3 linked regions of the Homo sapiens genome follow. The protein of the gene in region 1 purifies or fractionates together with the protein of each later gene. This does not show direct contact. Each region holds a gene or a part of one and is shown on either strand. Other genes may lie near its edges.

Region 1 (7,031 bases):
AAAATGCATGTTCTTAACCATGAAGGTACCTATGATCAATAGTAGAAGTGGAAAATGTCATCTGCAGGTCATAAAGGGGCATACCACAGGATTTACACTTATAATAACAACAGCTAGTTTGTGTTATACCAGTGTGCTAAGCCCTGGGCTGGACCTTTAGATGCATTATTTGGCTTTGATTCTTATGATTTTGTGAAGGATTATAATCCTTGATTTATAGCTGTGCAAAAGAAATTCAGAGAAGTAACTTGGTCCACGGTCACCAACTATCAAATGGATGAACCTAATCCAAACTGAGGTCTTCCTAATTGCAAATCCTGTTTTCTTAAACACTACCTGTCCTCTGGATCTGAGCAAGGAAGAAGCCAGGTGCCAAAATTCCTCCCACTAAGCAAAGCCATGAAGTTGTGAAATAATATTTCTGAGAAGCTCGGTTAGCACAAAGACAACAACGCGAGATATGAATCTGGATATTTCAGACAGCAAAAGAGAATTTTGAGACAAATATGTTTTTAACTCACCCAAGTTTAAAAATAGAATATATTTATATAATTGACTACATTAAGATGTTAAAGAAGAAAACTTAAGGTAGGGTGTTTACCGTTAGTAATAATTTATTGTATATTTCAAAATACCTAGAAGAGAAGAACTGGAATGCTCCCAACACAAAGTAAAGATAAATGAAATAATGGGTATCCCAATTACCCTGATTTGTTCATTACCCATTGTATACTTTTATCAAAATATCATATGTACCACAAAAATATGTTATGATTATTATACATCAATTAAAAAATAAATAAACATTGGCCGGACGTGATGGTTCACACCTGTAATCCCAGCACTTTGGGAGGCCGAGGCGGGTGGATCATTTGAGGTCAGGAGTTCGAGACCAGCCTGACCAACATGGTGAAACCCCGTCTCTACTAAAAAAAAAAAAAAAAAAAAAAATTAGCCACATGTTGTGGCACGAGCCTGTAATCCCAGCTACTCGGGAGGCTGAGGCAGGAGAATTGCTTGAGCCTAGGAGGCAGGTGTTGCAGTGAGCCAAGGTGGCAGCACTGCACTCCAGCCTGGGTGATAGAGCAAGACTCCATCTCAAAAAAAAAAAACAAAAAAGGTATATTCATCTCAGCAGAGATAGCAAAAGCATTCAATAAAATTCCACATCCATTTATGATTTAAGAAGAAAAACAAAACCTTTGCACAAACAGGGGTAGGAGGAAATGTGACGCATCTGTACTCAATGGTAAAATATTAGAAGCATTCTTTTTATTTATTAATTCTTTTTTAGCCTTTGGCAGGCATTCTCTTTAAAATAAAAAATAGTCAAAGATTCTTTTTTTTTTTTTTTTTTTGAGACAGGGTCTTGCTGTGTCACCCAGGCTGGAGTTCAGTGGTGGGATCTCAGCTCACTGCAGCCTTGACCTCCCAGGCTTAAGCAATCCTCCTATCTCAGCCTTCTGAGTAGCTGGGACCACAGGTGTGCACCACCAGAGCTGGCTTATTTTTATATCTTTTGTACAGACGGGGTTTTGCCATGTTTCCCAGGCTGGTCTGGAACTCCTGAGCTCAAGCAATCCTCCCACCTAGGCATCCCAAAGTGCTGGAATTATGGGTATGAGCCACTGTGCCTGGCCCCAAAAGTCAAAGATTTTTCTCTCTACTTCTCTACTTCTTATGGCTTCTATACACTTCTACATACTTCAGTACTTCTACACACTTGAATTCTGTACTGCACTGGCTAGGATACAGAGGATAAGATACTCTATAGGATGCAATTGGCTTTGTACATAAATAGTAGGAGCAGAGATGATTCAATAAATGGTGATGGGAAGATAGTTTACCCATCTGGAAAAAAATGAAGTTGAATCACATCACCTCACACATTAAAATTAATTCCAGATGAAGTAAGTACTTAAATATCAAAGACAAAACTATTTTTCATATTGTTGGGGTTTTTTTGGTTTGTTTTTTCTGTGTACTAGAGTAGAAAAGTAAAAGACAAAATTTTAATGCTCTTAGTAGAAAGCATAAGATGATATTTTGACCTCAGGGTAGAGAAGAATTTCATAAACAAGTCACCAAAAGAAAACAAAACAAAGAATGATAGTCTCAGAGGAAAAGATGATTAATTTGGTTACATTAAAATTGACAATTTCTGTTTATCAAAAGATGTTAACAACAGAGAAAATGCAAGCTTCAAACTAGGAGAAGATATAGCAATATATATAAATGAAAAAGAATTCGATATAGAATTCCTATAAATCTTTAAGAAAAAGAGAAACATTTTTTAAATAGACAAAAGACACAAACAGGTGTGTCTTAGAAGATAAAACACAAGTGAAATGAACATTAAAACTACAAGAATACATCATTAAGTACCAACTAGTTTAGCAAGGATTTAAAGTTTAAAGAGGGTGCAAGCTGGTAAGGATATGGGAACTCATAAACTTCTGGCAGGAATATAATCTGGGTCAATCACTTGGGAAAACAATTTAGCATTATCTTTTTAGGTTGAGCTTGTAATTTCACTACTATGTATATGCCCAGAGAAACCTTTAGATGTGAGGACCAGGAGATGTATATATGAATATTCAATGCAGCATAGTTTCTAACTGAAAATAGCAAGAGAACAGGTAAGTAAATTTGTGGCATATTTATACAGTGGAATACAAAAGTAAAAATGAATGAACTATAGCCAGAGGAATCAATACAGTTTAATCAGTAGAGTTAAAAAAAAGTTGCAATAGAATATATATGAGACCATTTTTTAAAAAAAGTTTCATTTAAAAAGCAAAATTAAACAATATATGATTTAATTAATCAATATTTAAACATCTTGTTTAATTAATCAATATTATTTAATTAAACATCTTGTTTAATCAATATATTGATTCACAGTATGTGATTAAAGTATTTTAAAAAGCAGAGAATGAGAATAAACACCGGGAGAATGGTAACCTCTAGGGGTTGGGGTAGGTAAGAACTTTATCTGGTTGAGGAGAAGAGATGAGGAGGAAGGAGAAGGAGAAGTCAGAGAGTTTCCAAGCCAGCGAGATGGACTGGATGTCCATTGCTGGTAGGGAGATGAAGGGAGCCGGGTACAAGGAAGAGAGGACTCCAAGGTTCAGGGCAGCCCCAGCTGATGGCCAGCAAGGGAACAGGGACCTCAGTCCTGCACATACAAGGACCTGGACTCTGCCATCAAGCTGAATTTGCTTTAAGCTGATTCTACCCTAGTCTCCCAATCAGAGCCCTGGAAGGCTGACACCTTGATACTGGCCTTGTTAGACCCAGAGCAGAGAAACCAGACAAGCCAATCTGGACTTCTGATGTACAGGTACTGTGAGGTCATAAATTTATGTTGTTTCAGGCCATTAAGTCTGTGGTAATTGGTTACCACAATAGAAAATGAATTATTTATGGATTTTTTTTTACCTTTATTGATTTACTTTTCCTGGTATATTTTGCTGTTCCCTTATAGTTACCTAAGTAAATAGCTTATGTATTTTAAGTTTTCTTTCCAAAAAATATAATAAAAGCATTTAAGCCTATATTCCTCTGGGAACCATTTTAATTAAACCCCAAAGATTTTTATTTATTTATTTTTTTGAGATCAGGGTCTGGCTCTGTTGCCCAGGCTGGAGTGCAATGGTATAATCTCAGCTTACTGTAACCTCTGCCTCCTGGTCTCAAGGGAGCTGTGCACCTCATCATCCCAAGTAGCCAGGACAACAGGTGTGCACCACCCTGCCCAGCTAATTTTTGTGTTTTTGTTTTAGAGATGAGGTTCCGCCATGTTGCCCAAGCTGATCTCAAACGTCTGGGCTTAAGCGATCCACTGGTCTCAGCTTTTCAAAGTGCTGGGATCACAGGAGTGAGCAGTGCACTATGCCCAGCCAGGACCCACAGATTTTTAAATAGGTATTCTCTTTATTGCTAATTGTTAGATCAGTCTCTCTCTTGATTTCTCTCTCTCTCGATCTCTCTCTCTGTCTTTCCTTTATTTGTAGAGACAGTCTCCCTATGTTGCCCAGTCTGGTCTTGAACTTCGGAGCTCAAATGATCCTCCCACCTCGGCCTTCGAAAATGCTGGAATTATAGGCATGAGCCAGCATGCCCAGCCTGATATTTCTTAATTTTACATATTAAGATATAGAGCAGAGTATAAGTTGGTTTTTAGAGAATCCAGATTAAAAGTCATATCCAGTATAAGAAATCTTTATTTCTTATTATTTTGTTCTGTGAATTCTGCAATTCTGGTGCTCTCTGAGGGGAAAATAGTTATAATAGAAACAAATGTAAAGAATGTTTAGAAAACATTTACAGTCACTGGGCGCGGTGGCTCACACCTGTAATCCTAGCACTTTGGGAGGCTGAGGCAGGCGGATCACCTGAGGTCAGGAGTTCAAGACTAGCCTGGCCAACATGGTGAAACCCCATCTCTACTAAAATACAAAAATTAGCCTGGCACGATGGTGGGTACCTGTAATCCCAGCTACTTGGGAGGCTGAAACAGGAGAATCACTTGAACCCTGGAGACAGTGGTTGCAGTGAGCCAAGATCGCAGCACTGCACTCCAGCCTGGGTGGCTAAGCGAGACTCTGTCTCAAAAAAAAAAAAAAAAAAAAAGAAAAGAAAACATTTACAGTCTCTGAATTGTTTTTATAACTTGCTTGTAAATACACTGAAATACTGACCTGTAACAAATAGCATATGACAGCTATCAGTCCAACCCAGCTGTGCAGACTGTACATATTGGCTATATTGTTAACATTGTGGTTCTCAAACACGGCCACCACAGAGATAATTGCAAGAATGGCAGCAACTGCATTTAACCCTGCATGGATGGATTTCATCAGGAGCTTGCTGCATTTCCAGGTCCACGGCAGTCTGTAGACGATGATGGCTAGGGAAAGACGAAAGGACACAGAATGTGTTTTGTTTTGTTTTTTAAACAACACAAAATGAACAGTTTGACACACTGGACACTCCCTTTTTGAAACCTTTTTCCCTTGGCTTTTGCTTCTCCCCTCTTCCCCATGTTACCCCTGCCTCTCAGTGGCTCCCTCTAGGGGACGGTGGAGGAGTTCCTTTGCTGGCATTTTCTTCACTCCCAACTTGTGAATGAACCTTGGTGCCTCTCAGGCTCGGTCCTAGGGCTTTTTCTCCCTCTGCACTCCCTCTTGTGGGTGATCTCATTCACTCTTTCACTGAAATGCTGTCTCCATGGCAGGGACTCCAAAAAATTTATATCTCCAGCCCAGAACTGTCTTCTAAGCTTCAGATCTGCATAATCCAATGTCTTCTTGGTATTTCCGTACGGCGTTTGCTTCCCAGACATCTCAAACTTATCCAAAACCAAATTCCTAATCTTAACAATCTGATTTATGCCTGTTGTCTCCTTTCTTCTTAAAAATGTCTCAGTTTGGCCGGGCCCAGTGGCTCATGCCTGTAATCCCAGCACTTTGAGAGGCTGAGGCGGGGTATCACTTGAGGTCAGCAGTTCAAGACCAGCCTGGCCAACATGGTGAAACCCCATCTCTACTAAAAATACAAAAATTAGCCAGGCATGGGGTGGCATGCACATGTAATCCCAGCTATTCTGGAGGCTGAGGCACGAGAATCGCTTGAACCCGGGAGGCAGAGGTTGCAGTGAGCCGAGATTGCGCCACTGCACTCCAGCCTGGGCAACAGAGGAAGACAAAAAAAAAAAAAAAAGTCTTAGTTTGATAAGAAAAAGAAAGGAACAGAAAAACATGCAAATTTAAACCATGCAATAGAGAAATACAAATTTAAGCCGAATGAGAATACCTCTACCACATATCTGAATGGCTAAACCTGGAAAACACCAAGTATCAAAATGAATATACAGCAGTCAGAACTCTAATGTTCTGCTGATGAGTGCTTTAATGAGAACAAAACTTTGGAAAACTGGCAGTATCTACTTAAGGTAAAGTTATGCATACCTTATTGTCCAGCAATTTCACTCTCGGGTATATGCCAAAAAGAAATATTTATATGATCATCAAAAGATACTAGAATATTATTAGCAGTACTATTTATAGTAACCAAAACCTGGAAACTCCCCCAAATGCCCATCATCAATAGAATGAATAAATAAATTTACACCATGGAAAGAAACGATCTACAACTAGAACTAGACCCAGTAATATGGATCAACCTATAATGTCAATCTCAAGAAGCCAGACGTTAACAAGTATATAGTGTAATTCAATTTATATGAAGTATAGAAACCAGCAAAACTCATCTCTGCATTGGAAAAGTCAGGATAGTAGTTGCCTTCGTGGGGAAGGATACAGCAATTACAATGGAACACACAAGGGATTTTGAAGACTCCTACTAACATTCTGTTTCTCAATCTAGGTGCTGGTTTCACAGGTGTCATAGACAGAAGATTCATCATTCTGCATGTAGAACAAACTCCAATTAAGTTTTTTATGGCCTGGCGCGGTGGCTCACGCCTGTAATCCCAACACTTTGGGAGGCCGAGGTGGGCAGATCACTTGAGGTCAGGAGTTCAAGACCAGCCTGACCAACATGGTGAAACCCTGTCTCTACTAAAAATACAAAAAAATTAGCCAGGCATTGTGGTGCATACCTGTAATCTCAGCTATTTGGGAGGCTGAGGCAGGAGAATCGCTTGAACCTGGGAGGCAGAGGTTGCAGTGAGCTGAGATCATGCCACTGCACTCCAGCCTGGGTGACAGAGCAAGACTCCGTCTCGGGGAAAAAAAAAAAAAGAAAACAAAAGTTTTTTTACAAAGGGTTGTCTTAAGTGTCCTGGTTTAAGCAATAAATTATATGGCCACCTTAACCAACATTCAGTTAATTTTTGTTCTGAAGATAAAATCCTGCCCCTATCCATCCCTCCAGTCTGTGTCAGGGAAAATTTAGATATCTGGAAATGTGTGGCAGATTGAAAAAGTTTATAGAATACTTCCTCAGACGATGGATTCCACTATATCAGCAGGGTATCACGTATATTTCTTTTCTTTTCTTTCTCT
Region 2 (5,161 bases), on another chromosome or scaffold:
TGCTGGGAATACAGGCGTGAGCCACTGCACCCAGCCTTGTGTGATCTTTTAAAGTACAGTTCCCATAGATTTACATTAAGAATAAAAAAGTCATGACATCTTGCTTTTATATGGCAGTTTACTCAAGCTTTTTAAAGAAAGAGCATTCATCTTGCTTTTACGTGGTTTTAGAATGTTGAAAACCTTTTGTTAAATCTGAGTAATTTACTGCATTTTCCATTAATTCAGCTTAGTTAGACTGCTGGATCCAGTGCTTGTTTGCTGTCACATATACCTAATATGCTTTTAACATATGCCAAATTCTGTTCTTAGTTCTTTACATTTATTAACTTATTTAATTTTCACAACAACCCTGTGAGGAATATCTATTATGATCTTCATTGTATATATGTAATGAAATGGAGATACAGAAAGAGTAAATAATTTGCCTAAGGCGACATAGCTTATAAGTAATAGAGCAAGAATTTAGACTATGTATTTGATACCTTGCTTCCTTGATAACAATAACTACAAGCTGTTTTATAATAGTTTGCAAATTTAACTTTTTTCTAATTGTGGTTTCATTTATATTTCTTTCAACTTAGGAGTGTCATCTAATGGACCAGGTGAAATATTAAACAAAGAGGAAGTAAAAGTTGAAGGGTTACACATTAATGGACCAACAGGTGGAAATAAGAAACCACTTCATGCAGATATGGATACTAATGGTTATGAAACAGATAACCTTACCACTGACCCAAAACTTGCCCATATGACTGCAAGAAATGAAAATGATTTTGATGAAAAAAGTGAGAGACCTGCCAAAAGGCGAAGGGTAAACAGCAATGGAAAAGAAAGTCCAGGTTCTTCTGAATTTTTCCAAGAAGCAGTCTCACATGGGAAATTTGAAGAACTTGAAAACACAGATGACTAAATTTTAGACCTATTTTACTTTCTTTGGAGTAAATTCTGGTGTGACTAAAATTTTCAGGGTTGATGGGTTACCTTAAAAAGTTGATTTCCTTGAAGCAGTTTGAAAATTTGAATTGAGTCTTAACTTTAGGAAATGAGGTTTCATAATTCTGCCTTTTGCAGATTTTTTTACTTTAAAGCTGTCAGACTCTTTTAAGGGTATTTTAAAAATTAGTAAATTTGAATGAACTAAAGATATATCTCTACCTTCTCATTTGAATATCTTTAGTTCATTCAGATTTACTAATTTTGGTAAATCTGAATGAACTAAAGATGTATCTGTACCTTCTCATTTGATGTATTAATCATAAAATTTCACTACAAGGTAATTTTTGCTTAGTTTGATGGATGAATGGGAAACTCAAGTCCAAATTTCTGCTTAATACCAATTTCTCTGAGTTTCTTGAAATGTCTTTAAAACAGACATTTTTCTCACCAAACAGTTTGAGTATCTTTATTAAGGAAACCCTTACGAATCCTGAAAATTATGCTAGCATGATTTTTTTATATATAGAAGTTTAAAAATAAACCAGGTCAGGTTTGTATATGTAAAATTGTTGACATCAATGATGTCTTTCCATATTCTTATCTGGGCTTAAGAAATACATTCTGTATTTTTCCAGATTCTTTGTAGCCTTTGAAAGATTTTTACAGTACATATGTCTTGACTGAGCTGTCCTTTCTTAATACAAAAGCGTGTATAATTTTCTTAACTTGTACAGTTGGTAAACTTTTATGAGAGGAATTGTTATTCTGAGTCTGTCAGCTTTCATTTTATTTTGCTAAGGTTTTTCTAATGAATTTTTAAGTGTTTGTGTAGTAATTAAGTCATATTTCTTATCCAGGTGGTTAAAGCATTCATAAAGGATTATAAAATTTTTTTTTTTTTTTTTTTTTTTAAATTTCTACTTAAGGGCAAGTAATTTGAGAATTCTGAAATTAAGCATGATGCTTAGATTGCAGTTTGTTTTGCATTTGCTATAATTTTCAAAATTATTTTTGAAGCAAGACAAAAGTTTAATGTCAGCTTAAGTGCTTAAATATATCATGCTGACCAGAATCCTGTTATTTTTATATGCATCATAAAATTTCCCATTTCTGCATTAAATAAACAGAGGAGGGGGGTCAAGTGATACTTAGATATTGGCACACACAAGGAACAACTGTTGGCAGGCAGTATCGATTTTATGAAGAGAAAGTGAAGTTTGAAAACTTTTCAAACTTTTCTAGTTACAATCCAATTTTTCAGATTTGATAATGCTTTTCCAAAGTGAAAATAAGATACACAATAATCATTGCTCTGTGTGATTACAGATAGGATTATCCATCTGCATAGCCTTGTAAAAGTGCCATTTTATTTTTAGTGCTAAATTCTTGTTAAATAATGTAGTTTTATATAGCTGATAGACCAACCTATATCCAAACTTTTATAAAATATTAATTATTCTTGTTTTTCTCACACAGGCATACTCCAAATGCTTCTTCCAGTTCATTTTTCAGCCATCAGTTCAAGAGCCAATGCCTTTTTAAAATAAAGCTTCTGTGGTCTTGTTTTTAATGGCTCAACTGTCTGATGTAATTGAGTGAAGGTTTGCACTGAGAAATTAGCATTCAGGCCTTACCCCCATGAAGTATTACTGTTAACATATGTTCGGACTGCTTCCCTTCACCAATGTGAACAACTTTTTTTCCCAAACAGTGTTAAAAGCCACTTTGCAACACTTGACTTCATCTTAATGTACATTCACTGTTGTTACATACATATCTAAGTAAATCAAAGTTTTGGGTGGAAGTGTTGAGAAGTATGAGTTTTTTGTTGTTTTTGTTTTACTTAAAACTTTTAATTTATCCAGAATGGCAGTAGCTTTAGCAAGCAGATGGTCACAATCTGTTTTCTAAATCATTTTTTATTAAATGAATCCAAAGTATCCTAGCTCTTTGTCAAAGATGGTCTGTAGAAATGTTTTTAAAGATTAGGGATGCTGTACTTTTTGAATTGTTGCAGTGTTGGAGATGCCATTTTCACCTTTTTAAAAAGATGCATTTTATTTGCAGGTTTGTGAAGTTCTTGCAAACTCTTACTACAGAAATGTTTTAAATACATTCTCAGGCATGTTTGCAAAAATATGGCACATGTATACATTTTAGGAAATGTTACTTTTGTTAATCTTTAAAAAATACACCTAATGAAAGACATTCCACTATTATGCGTAATGCTCAGCTTTTTGTAAAGAAATATTTAATTGTATTTTGTGTTTATACAGGTATTTCACACAATAATTTGTTCTTAATGCAGCCACTATAACTTGATAAGTCATTGCACTATTTAAAAAGTTTTAGTAATATCATGAATTTAATTTGCTTAAGATTTAGTACATTTCAGAACTTTTGAACTTTTGACAAATTGCATTGGAAAAAGAAGTCTGTTAATAGTGATTTAGTCTCCCCGCCTCATTCCCACCCCCAACAAAGCACTATCATTTTCATTTGGAATGGGTATTTTCTGTTTCATGATGTATTTTCAAATAGAGTTCAGGATCTGCAATTCAGTTCAACACAAGTTTGTTGAGCTTTAAAATGTATTTGAAGTAATATTTAAATAGGCATTTAAAATTTCAAATTAGATGTTAAATTTATGCATAGTAATTTTGCACTGTAAAATAATTCCCTTCTCCCATTCCTTGTCTGCCATTCTGAATATGCTTATTAAAATATTTTTTTAAACATATTTGCCTACATAATACTGTGTGAATATTTTCATTAGATTAATTCACTAAGATTTTATTAGAGATTGTTTGAATGATGCATGTTATTGACAAGGCAAATATATATATATACACAGTCTGTTTCTTCTATTCCTAGACATATTGCACTACTTTTTCAGTGGTTCTTGGTCCCCTTTACCACATCTTGGGTGATGTATTTTTGTCTTCTTCCCCTTTGCCACAAGAGATCCTTTCAGTCCCTAGACCTCCATTCACTCTGTTTCTCTTCTGCTGGATTATATAATTTAAAAATAATGTGTTCCCGTATTTTGTAGTGGAGTTCATATCACATTATGTTTTGCAAAATAAAACTTGTTTTGTCACAATATTTTCTTTGCTATCGATGGATAATTAGGAGTGGGCACTTGGAATAACTGAGGGCTGGTGAATATAATAGGCAATATTTACATGGGGTGTGTAACTAAATACCAAATCAGATAGTAAGGTTTTCCCAACTATAATCCATATTCATGAAAAATGCCAGTGTGGAAAACCATGTAACATACAGAAGAACAGGAGTTTCCAAATTTTAACCTTTTATTCTAAAAATGACTCTCTTCTCTCAAAATGACTTTTTCTGTATCACATAATTCTACTGATACAACTTTTTACCGTAAAAATTAACTCTCTTCTTTAATATCAAGTTCATCCTTTGCAGAATCTTAAAGGGTTTTCCACACATCCATCCACCCACTTACAGACTGATTTCATGTATCTGAATATCTGATTAACCTTTCTTTTCTAATACCAGTTTTCCATAAACTCTTGTCATGTACCCTTAGTATTGTGCTGATCTTTTGCCAACTATACGGACGTGGAGTTTTTCCTTTTCAGAATATGATTATTTTCAATTTGTCTTTAGTTAGTATAAAGAATTATAGAATGTATAATGTAATTAAAATGTCATTTTGCTTGCTCTTGAGTAAGAAGTAATTTGAACACACTTTTAAAGGCTACTTATTCTGTGAAGAATATTGAAGAATTGCCATGTAAACGAGATGAGATGGATTCTAATTGTCCAAATTGATGGTGACAGTTTCACATTTAAATGTCAATGATGACAAGCTTTCATTATGTTTCCATATACTCTAATATCCAGCAAATATTTCGGCCTATACTTGTACCAGGTACTATGCTTGCTTGGCTTGTGGCTTCAGAGATGCGGCATGCCCTGTTCTTCAAGAAGGCAGCAAAGTGTTAATGGTAGAAAAGTAAAGTGTATTCTGAGTACAGAGACAGCAAAAAGAGGAATAGGCACGATCTCAAGAAAATGAGTTTACCTTCCTCTTTGCCATGTAAGTCTAGCTAAATATTTTTCTTTTGTCAAACTTCGTATTTGCTGGAAATTAACCAACATGAAATGCATGATTTTCCCTAAGAAATTTTGTCTTTTAAAAAAAAAATTTCCTGCAGAGCTGGTTCTACCATAACAGCAGCTGTGGATT
Region 3 (7,031 bases), on another chromosome or scaffold:
GGAGGAGCACAGGGATGGCGGCCCAGGGCTTGGGAAAGGGAGGACGGACAGTGCCTCCTCCCTGTCAGGGGCTGAGTTGGCTGCTTTGCTTGTCCTGGCGTGTGTGGGTGCAGATTGGGTTCCTGCAAGCTGACCTTTGCCCTCTGCTTGTGCAGTCTACGAGAACGAAGACCAGCTGCTCTGGGACCCCAGCGTCCTCCCTGAGAGGGAGGTGGAGGAGTTCCTGTACAGGGCGGTGAAGCGGCGTTGGCACGAGATGGCCGGGCCTCAGCTCCCAGAGGGAGAAGCCGTGAAAGACAGTGAGCAGGTGGGGGCTGCCATGCCGGGGACAGAGGGGCTGAGGGCTGCCGTGGCGTGGGCCAGAGCTCACACCCCAGTGCCTCCAGGGGCCAGGGAGGGCAGAGGGGAGGGCAGGGGTCAGGTGTGTGGGGGCCAGGGCACTGGAACAGCTACTCAGGTCAGAAGGGGGGCCAATTAAAACCACGTATCAGGGAGGAGGTGTAGACGCCTCCGGGTATCCTGCAAGGGGATGTAGACACCCCTGATGTCACTCCCTGGATAGAGGTGTAGGTGGCCCTGACATCGCCCAGGAGGATGGTGTGGACGGCCCCTGATGCCAGTCCCTGGATAGAGGTGTAGGTGGCTCTGACATCGCCCAGGAGGGTGGTGTGGACGGCCCCTGATGCCAGTCCCTGGATAGAGGTGTAGGTGGCCCTGACATCGCCCAGGAGGGTGGTGTGGACGGCCCCTGATGTCACTCCCTGGATAGAGGTGTAGGTGGCCCTGACATCGCCCAGGAGGGTGGTGTGGACGGCCCCTGATGTCACTCCCTGGATAGAGGTGTAGGTGGCCCTGACATCGCCCAGGAGGGTGGTGTGGACGGCCCCTGATGTCACTCCCTGGATAGAGGTGTAGGTGGCCCTGACATTGCCCAGGAGGGTGGTGTGGACGGCCCCTGATGTCACTCCCTGGATAGAGGTGTAGGTGGCCCTGACATCGCCCAGGAGGGTGGTGTGGACGGCCCCTGATGTCACTCCCTGGATAGAGGTGTAGGTGGCCCTGACATCGCCCAGGAGGGTGGTGTGGACGGCCCCTGATGTCACTCCCTGGATAGAGGTGTAGGTGGCCCTGACATCGCCCAGGAGGGTGGTGTGGACGGCCCCTGATGCCAGTCCCTGGATAGAGGTGTAGGTGGCTCTGACATCGCCCAGGAGGGTGGTGTGGACGGCCCCTGATGTCACTCCCTGGATAGAGGTGTAGGTGGCCCTGACATCGCCCAGGAGGGTGGTGTGGACGGCCCCTGATGTCACTCCCTGGATAGAGGTGTAGGTGGCCCTGACATCGCCCAGGAGGGTGGTGTGGACGGCCCCTGATGTCACTCCCTGGATAGAGGTGTAGGTGGCTCTGACATCGCCCAGGAGGGTGGTGTGGACGGCCCCTGATGCCACTCGCTGGATGGTATAGACAGTTCTTGCTGTCGGCTCCTGCGCTGAGCCCATGGAAGAGCCAACATGTCCTCTCCCCAGGCGCTGTACGAGTTGGTGAAATGCAACTTCAATGTGGAGGAGGCCCTGCGAAGGCTGCGGTTCAACGTGAAGGTGATCCGAGGTGAGCAGCGGTCTGGGCCTTCCTTCCGCTGCGGCCCCGCCCTGGGCACTGCTGACCGTTCTCCCCGGCCTGGGCCTTCCTTCCGCTGCGGCCCCGCCCTGGGCGCCGCTGACCGTTCTCCCCGGCCTGGGCCTTCCTTCCGCTGCGGCCCCGCCCTGGGCGCCGCTGACTGTTCTCCCCGGCCTGGGCCTTCCTTCCGCTGCGGCCCCGCCCTGGGCACCACTGACCGTTCTCCCCGGCCGTGTTTGCAGATGGGCTCTGTGCTTGGAGTGAAGAGGAGTGCAGGAACTTTGAGCACGGCTTCCGTGTGCATGGAAAGAACTTTCACCTGATCCAGGCCAACAAGGTGCGGACTCCACTGCCAGGCTCCACCGGGGGCTTCTCGATCTGGGGAGGGGCTCAGGGTCCGCAGGCACACAGCACACGGCCGACTGGAGGCCTGGAGCCCCGTGTCCTGTGTCCGCCTCCTCACCGTGTGCCCATTGCTGTCTTCTGCATTTTTTGCTACTGACTGCTGTGGGCCCCTTTCCTGTCCCCACAAGAACAAGGCTCTGGCTTTGGGAAAGAATGTGGCAAAAGCTGAATTCTAGTAGTTGTTTCTGCCTCACATTCCACCCCAGGGCCCTGGGCACCTCATCTTCAAGTCTGTGTCCTCTGAGCAGAGCCTGCTGGCTCAGTGTCCAGCATTGGCCCCACAGCAGAACCCCTGACACCTGGAGACCAGGGGTCTCCTGGTTCCCTCCTCCAGGGACCCAGGTCCTGCCACCCGGGACAAACCCTCATGACAGGCAGGTGCTGCCAAGTGCCGGGGCCTTCTGCCCTTCCTTAGACCTTCCCCACGTCCTCTGTGGGTCTCTGCATGTCTGCAGCAGTGCCCTCTGCCCTGTGGCTTCTTGAGTGGTAACTTCCAAGCCAGCCTCTTGGCAGTCAGACATCTCTGGCTGAAAACCTTCCCATGGCTCTGACCAGTGGCTTCTCCGCCTCTGTCCACGCCCCGGTTGGGCACTGAGTCCCTTCAGGACCAGTGGGCTGTGGCCTTGTTGCCGAGCCTTGCTTCTGCCTCGTGTCCTGGGACCGTGCTCCATTTGGGGCCCGATGTCGTCCACTGAAGGGCTTGGGTGAGGAGGCACCTGCCCGGGGCTGGTTGTACGGCTCAGGACATTGCTCAGGTGACTGTGCGGTGCCGTGCGCAGCAGCGATGGACTGTCCTTGTCAGACTCCAGCACCACGTGGTGTTTTGATTGGAGACAGCGGGGCGAGGTGTGGCTGGAGTGTGGTGCTCCCAGGCTACACTTGGAGCCCCTGTCAAGTTTCTGTAGCTCCGGGCCGTGTTTCTGGAGTTGTGGGCCGTGTTTCTGGACTCCTGGCCGTGTTTCTACAGCTCCAGGCTGTGTTTCTGGACTCTGGGCCGTGTTTCTATGGACTCCGTGTTTCTGTAGCTCCGGGCTGTGTTTCTACAGCTCCGGGCCATGTTCCTATAGCTCCGGGCCGTGTTTCTATAGCTCTGGGCTGTGTTTCTGGAGCTTCGGGCTGTGTTTCTGGACTCTGGGCTGTTTCTATAGCTCCGGGCTGTGTTTCTATAGCTCCCGGCTGTGTTTCTGCAGCTCCCGGCCGTGTTTCTATAGCTCCGGGCCGTGTTTCTGCAGCTCCGGGCCGTGTTTCTATAGCTCAGGGCCGCGTTTTTGTAACTCCCGGCCGTGTTTCTGGAGCTCCGGGCAGGTCCTGGCCCAGCCGCGAGGGGCCGTGTGTAGCCAGCACACGTTGGTCAGCCTGAGCCAGTGCGTATTTCACCCTGGCCCTTCACAGAAGAGCTCCCTCGTGGCGTGCGTTTGAGGTTTGCCCTGCAGGGAGGTTGTCTCGGTCTCGCCCCCAGGCAGGACCCCACGTTGTTCTCGCAGCGGTGAGCATGGGGCATCCTCGTTCTGGGTGGCGGTGGGTTAGTTGGCCCAGAGCATGTCCAGGTGAGGGGGTCTTTTCCGCCATCACCAGCAGTGGCCACAGCCTCAAGCTCTCTGTGGGATGAGCCTCCCGGGTGGAGATGTTGGAGGTGTTGCCAGGTGTGCGCCCAGCTCTGTGCCAGGTGCCACATGGAACACACTTGCTGTGTGTCCCTTCTCGTGTCCCTGAAGCCTTGTGTGCGTGTGTGTGTGTGTCCCTTCTCGTCTCCCTGAAGCCTTGTGTGCGTGTGTGTGTGTGTCCCTTCTCGTCTCCCTGAAGCCTTGTGTGCGTGTGTGTGTCTCTTCTCGTCTCCCTGAAGCCTTGTGTGCGTGTGTGTGTGTGTCCCTTCTCGTGTCCCTGAAGCCTTGTGTGCGTGTGTGTCCCTTCTCGTCTCCCTGAAGCCTTGTGTGCGTGTGTGTGTGTGTCCCTTCTCGTCTCCCTGAAGCCTTGTGTGTGTGTGTGTGTGTCCCTTCTCGTCTCCCTGAAGCCTTGTGTGCGTGTGTGTGTGTCCCTTCTCGTGTCCCTGAAGCCTTGTGTGCGTGTGTGTGTCCCTTCTCGTCTCCCTGAAGCCTTGTGTGTGTGTGTGTGTGTGTGTCCCTTCTCGTCTCCCTGAAGCCTTGTGTGCGTGTGTGTGTCCCTTCTCGTCTCCCTGAAGCCTTGTGTGTGTGTGTGTGTGTGTCCCTTCTCGTCTCCCTGAAGCCTGTGTGCATGTGTGTTTGGCCCTTTATGTGCTACGTTGGGAATTTTGTCGGGTTCACAGAACCCATGTGTCCTTCTGCGGTGTCTTCTGTGCACTTGGGAAGCATTCGCTGGGCCCTGGAGGGATGTGTTCGGTGGGAAAGCAGGCGCCGCGGGCTTGTGCCTCTTCCTCCCGGGGAAGGGGCTCAGTCCAGGAGTCTGTGGACCCGGGGGTTGTCACTCCCACTCCCACCCCGGGCCTGTGAGAAGCAGGCAGATGAGGTGGACGCAACTGGCCCGTGGCTCATGGTCTGGGATGGGGTGGGTGAGCAGTAGACAGAGGCCTGGAGGGTACGTTTGTCTGGCTGATGCTACAGAAGGGAAAGGGGTCTCAAGCCAGGAGCTGGAGGGCTCTGAGGGGGCTTGAAACAGGAGGCAGTGCCACAGTGCTCCGAGCCCCTGTTCCCTGTGGTGGGCATAGCCTGTGGCCTGTTAGGGTCATGGGTCGGGGGGTCTTGCGTTATCTGAGAGTGGTGGGTGCTGTGCTCCTTCTGTGCTGTCCCGGGGTCCCAGGACGTCCTGGGATCGTGGTGCAGGTGCTGGGGCTGGGCAGCCGGGGACAGAGATGGCTCCTGACCCCTCCCCGCAGGTGCGCACACGGTCAGTGGGCGAGTGTGTCGAGTACTACTACCTGTGGAAGAAGTCGGAGCGCTACGACTACTTCGCCCAGCAGACGCGGCTGGGCCGGAGGAAGTACGTCCCGTCCGGAACCACGTGCGTGCAGCCCTCCCCAGCAGTAACGACAGGCGGCCACCCCGCCGGGGGTGGGCACGTGGGCGCCTGGGCGGCACCTCTTGGGTGGGGGCGTCTGTCCTGTCTGCCGCCCCTCATGGCGCCCTCTCCCCACAGGGACGCAGACCAGGACCTGGATGGCAGCGACCCCGATGGCCCCGGCCGTCCGCGCCCGGAGCAAGACACCCTGACTGGGATGCGCACAGGTGAGGCTTGGGGAGTATCTCCTGCCCTGGGGGCGGCCACGGGTCTGGAGCCGTGAGTGAGGCCCGGTGGAGCCTCTCCTGCCTGGCGCCCTGTGCTGGGCCAGCCTCGCCAGGAGGAGTGGGCGTCTGGGTGGCGGAGGGCAGCCACGTGATGTGGATGCCGCTCTGTACACCTGGCTGGGAGAGGGGAGGGCAGGGATTACGCTTACCCTCTGGGCTTGCTGGAGGGGTGCATGTGGCCCCACTGCTGGGGAGCCCCGTATGGTGAGGTTGGGGTATTTACCAGGCCTCAGTCTCCGGGGAGGGCCTTCCTGCCCCAGGGTGGGGACTTAGCCCGTCACCAGGACACTCAGGAAGGACAGGGTGTCCGGAGCCGTCGCCAGGATCTTGCACCTGAGGCCATGACGGAGCACAGCAGGGCCTCGGGTAGGGACCATGTCCGATGGTGGTGTCTGATGTGGCGTCCGAAGGTGGAGACCCACACGGGGAGGGTGCAAACGAGGATCCTTTGCTTTCTGGCTCTGTGTTTAGATGGTTGAGTCTGGGAGGGTCCCCCATTTCCAGAGTCTGGTTGTTTCCATGGTTTGTTTGCCAAAGGGTGTCCACCTCGGCTACTTCCTAGAATTGTGGTGAGGCCCCTTGCGCTGCCTGTGGGAACAAAACTTCCAAAGACCCTGTATTAGCCCTCGCAGCGCCCCCGGCATTGTTTACACCTAAGTCTGTGTATTCCACAGACCCTGTATTTACCCTCTGCAGTGCCCCCGGCATTGTTTACACCTATGTCTATTGTATTCTGCTCTTTTTAAAGATGTGGGTTGTGACCCACTGTTGGTCTGATGAACTAAAATCTACTTCTAAAGCTGAGACCCTTAACCTGGGGCTCGCGGATTTCAGTGTAACTGGTGTCTTTTGTATTTGTGTGGAGGCTTTTCTGGGGAGGGATCCACAGGCTTTGCTGGACCCAGCAAAGTTAGGCAGGAGCCTGCACAGGATCCGCGGCTGTGGGCAGGCCCCACCCTCTGTTGCGTTCTCTTTCACAGATCCACTGAGCGTGGATGGCACGGCCGGTGGTCTCGATGAGCCCGGAGTGGCCTCTGATGGACTCCCGTCCTCGGAGCCAGGGCCGTGTTCCTTCCAGCAGCTGGATGAGTCCCCCGCTGTACCCCTGTCCCATCGGCCCCCAGCCCTGGCCGACCCAGCCTCATACCAGCCAGCTGTCACTGCTCCGGAGCCAGACGCCAGCCCAAGGCTGGCCGTGGACTTCGCCCTGCCCAAGGAGCTGCCCCTCATCTCCAGCCATGTGGACCTCAGCGGGGATCCGGAGGAGACTGTGGCCCCAGCACAGGTGGCTTTGTCGGTCACCGAGTTTGGACTCATCGGCATTGGGGACGTGAACCCCTTCCTGGCCGCCCACCCCACGTGCCCGGCCCCCGGGCTACACTCGGAGCCCCTGTCACAGTGAGTGCCACCCCATGCCCGGAGCCTCCGCAACACTCCAACCAGGTCCCCCCAGCCCTCAGGCTGAGCAGAGGAGGGTGGGAGGCATTTGCCCCAAGGACCCGAGGACAGTGTGGCTCCACGAGCAGGCTCTCAGTGTGTCTTTAGGTTTATTCTTTACTTGTATGTATTTTTTGACTGGAGAATACATTCATGTGGTCCACATTCTCCACAAATGGGAGCAGGTGCCAGGCTGTCCCACCCCTGCTCCAGCCACCAGCTCCCCTCAGGGCACCCCGGGCCCGGCTGCCATAGGCTGTGGGGGAGGCAAGGCTGGGAGTCTCGAGTCCAGCGCTCAGCACTGGGCTGTGC

What was found. The genes of interacting proteins can lie anywhere in the genome.
Region 2: the proteins of CYBRD1 (region 1) and MIER1 purify together in Homo sapiens (affinity purification with mass spectrometry; 2 studies listed by BioGRID and IntAct, with this or other methods). This does not show direct contact.
Region 3: the proteins of CYBRD1 (region 1) and MIER2 purify together in Homo sapiens (affinity purification with mass spectrometry; 2 studies listed by BioGRID and IntAct, with this or other methods). This does not show direct contact.

The regions. Positions count from the first base shown.
Region 1 is NC_000002.12:171,539,466-171,546,496, reverse strand, and holds part of CYBRD1 (plasma membrane ascorbate-dependent reductase CYBRD1), read right to left. Parts: intron 4,913-7,031; coding exon 4,704-4,912; intron 1-4,703. UniProt on the Homo sapiens protein: Plasma membrane reductase that uses cytoplasmic ascorbate as an electron donor to reduce extracellular Fe(3+) into Fe(2+).
Region 2 is NC_000001.11:66,983,988-66,989,148, forward strand, and holds the end of MIER1 (mesoderm induction early response protein 1), read left to right. Parts: intron 1-584; coding exon 585-913; 3' UTR 914-2,415; coding exon of another isoform or gene 2,416-2,486; 3' UTR 2,487-4,632; downstream 4,633-5,161. UniProt on the Homo sapiens protein: Transcriptional repressor regulating the expression of a number of genes including SP1 target genes. Probably functions through recruitment of HDAC1 a histone deacetylase involved in chromatin silencing.
Region 3 is NC_000019.10:306,768-313,798, reverse strand, and holds part of MIER2 (mesoderm induction early response protein 2), read left to right. Parts: intron 1-155; coding exon 156-307; intron 308-1,526; coding exon 1,527-1,608; intron 1,609-1,859; coding exon 1,860-1,954; intron 1,955-4,873; coding exon 4,874-4,998; intron 4,999-5,133; coding exon 5,134-5,222; intron 5,223-6,262; coding exon 6,263-6,680; intron 6,681-7,031. UniProt on the Homo sapiens protein: Transcriptional repressor.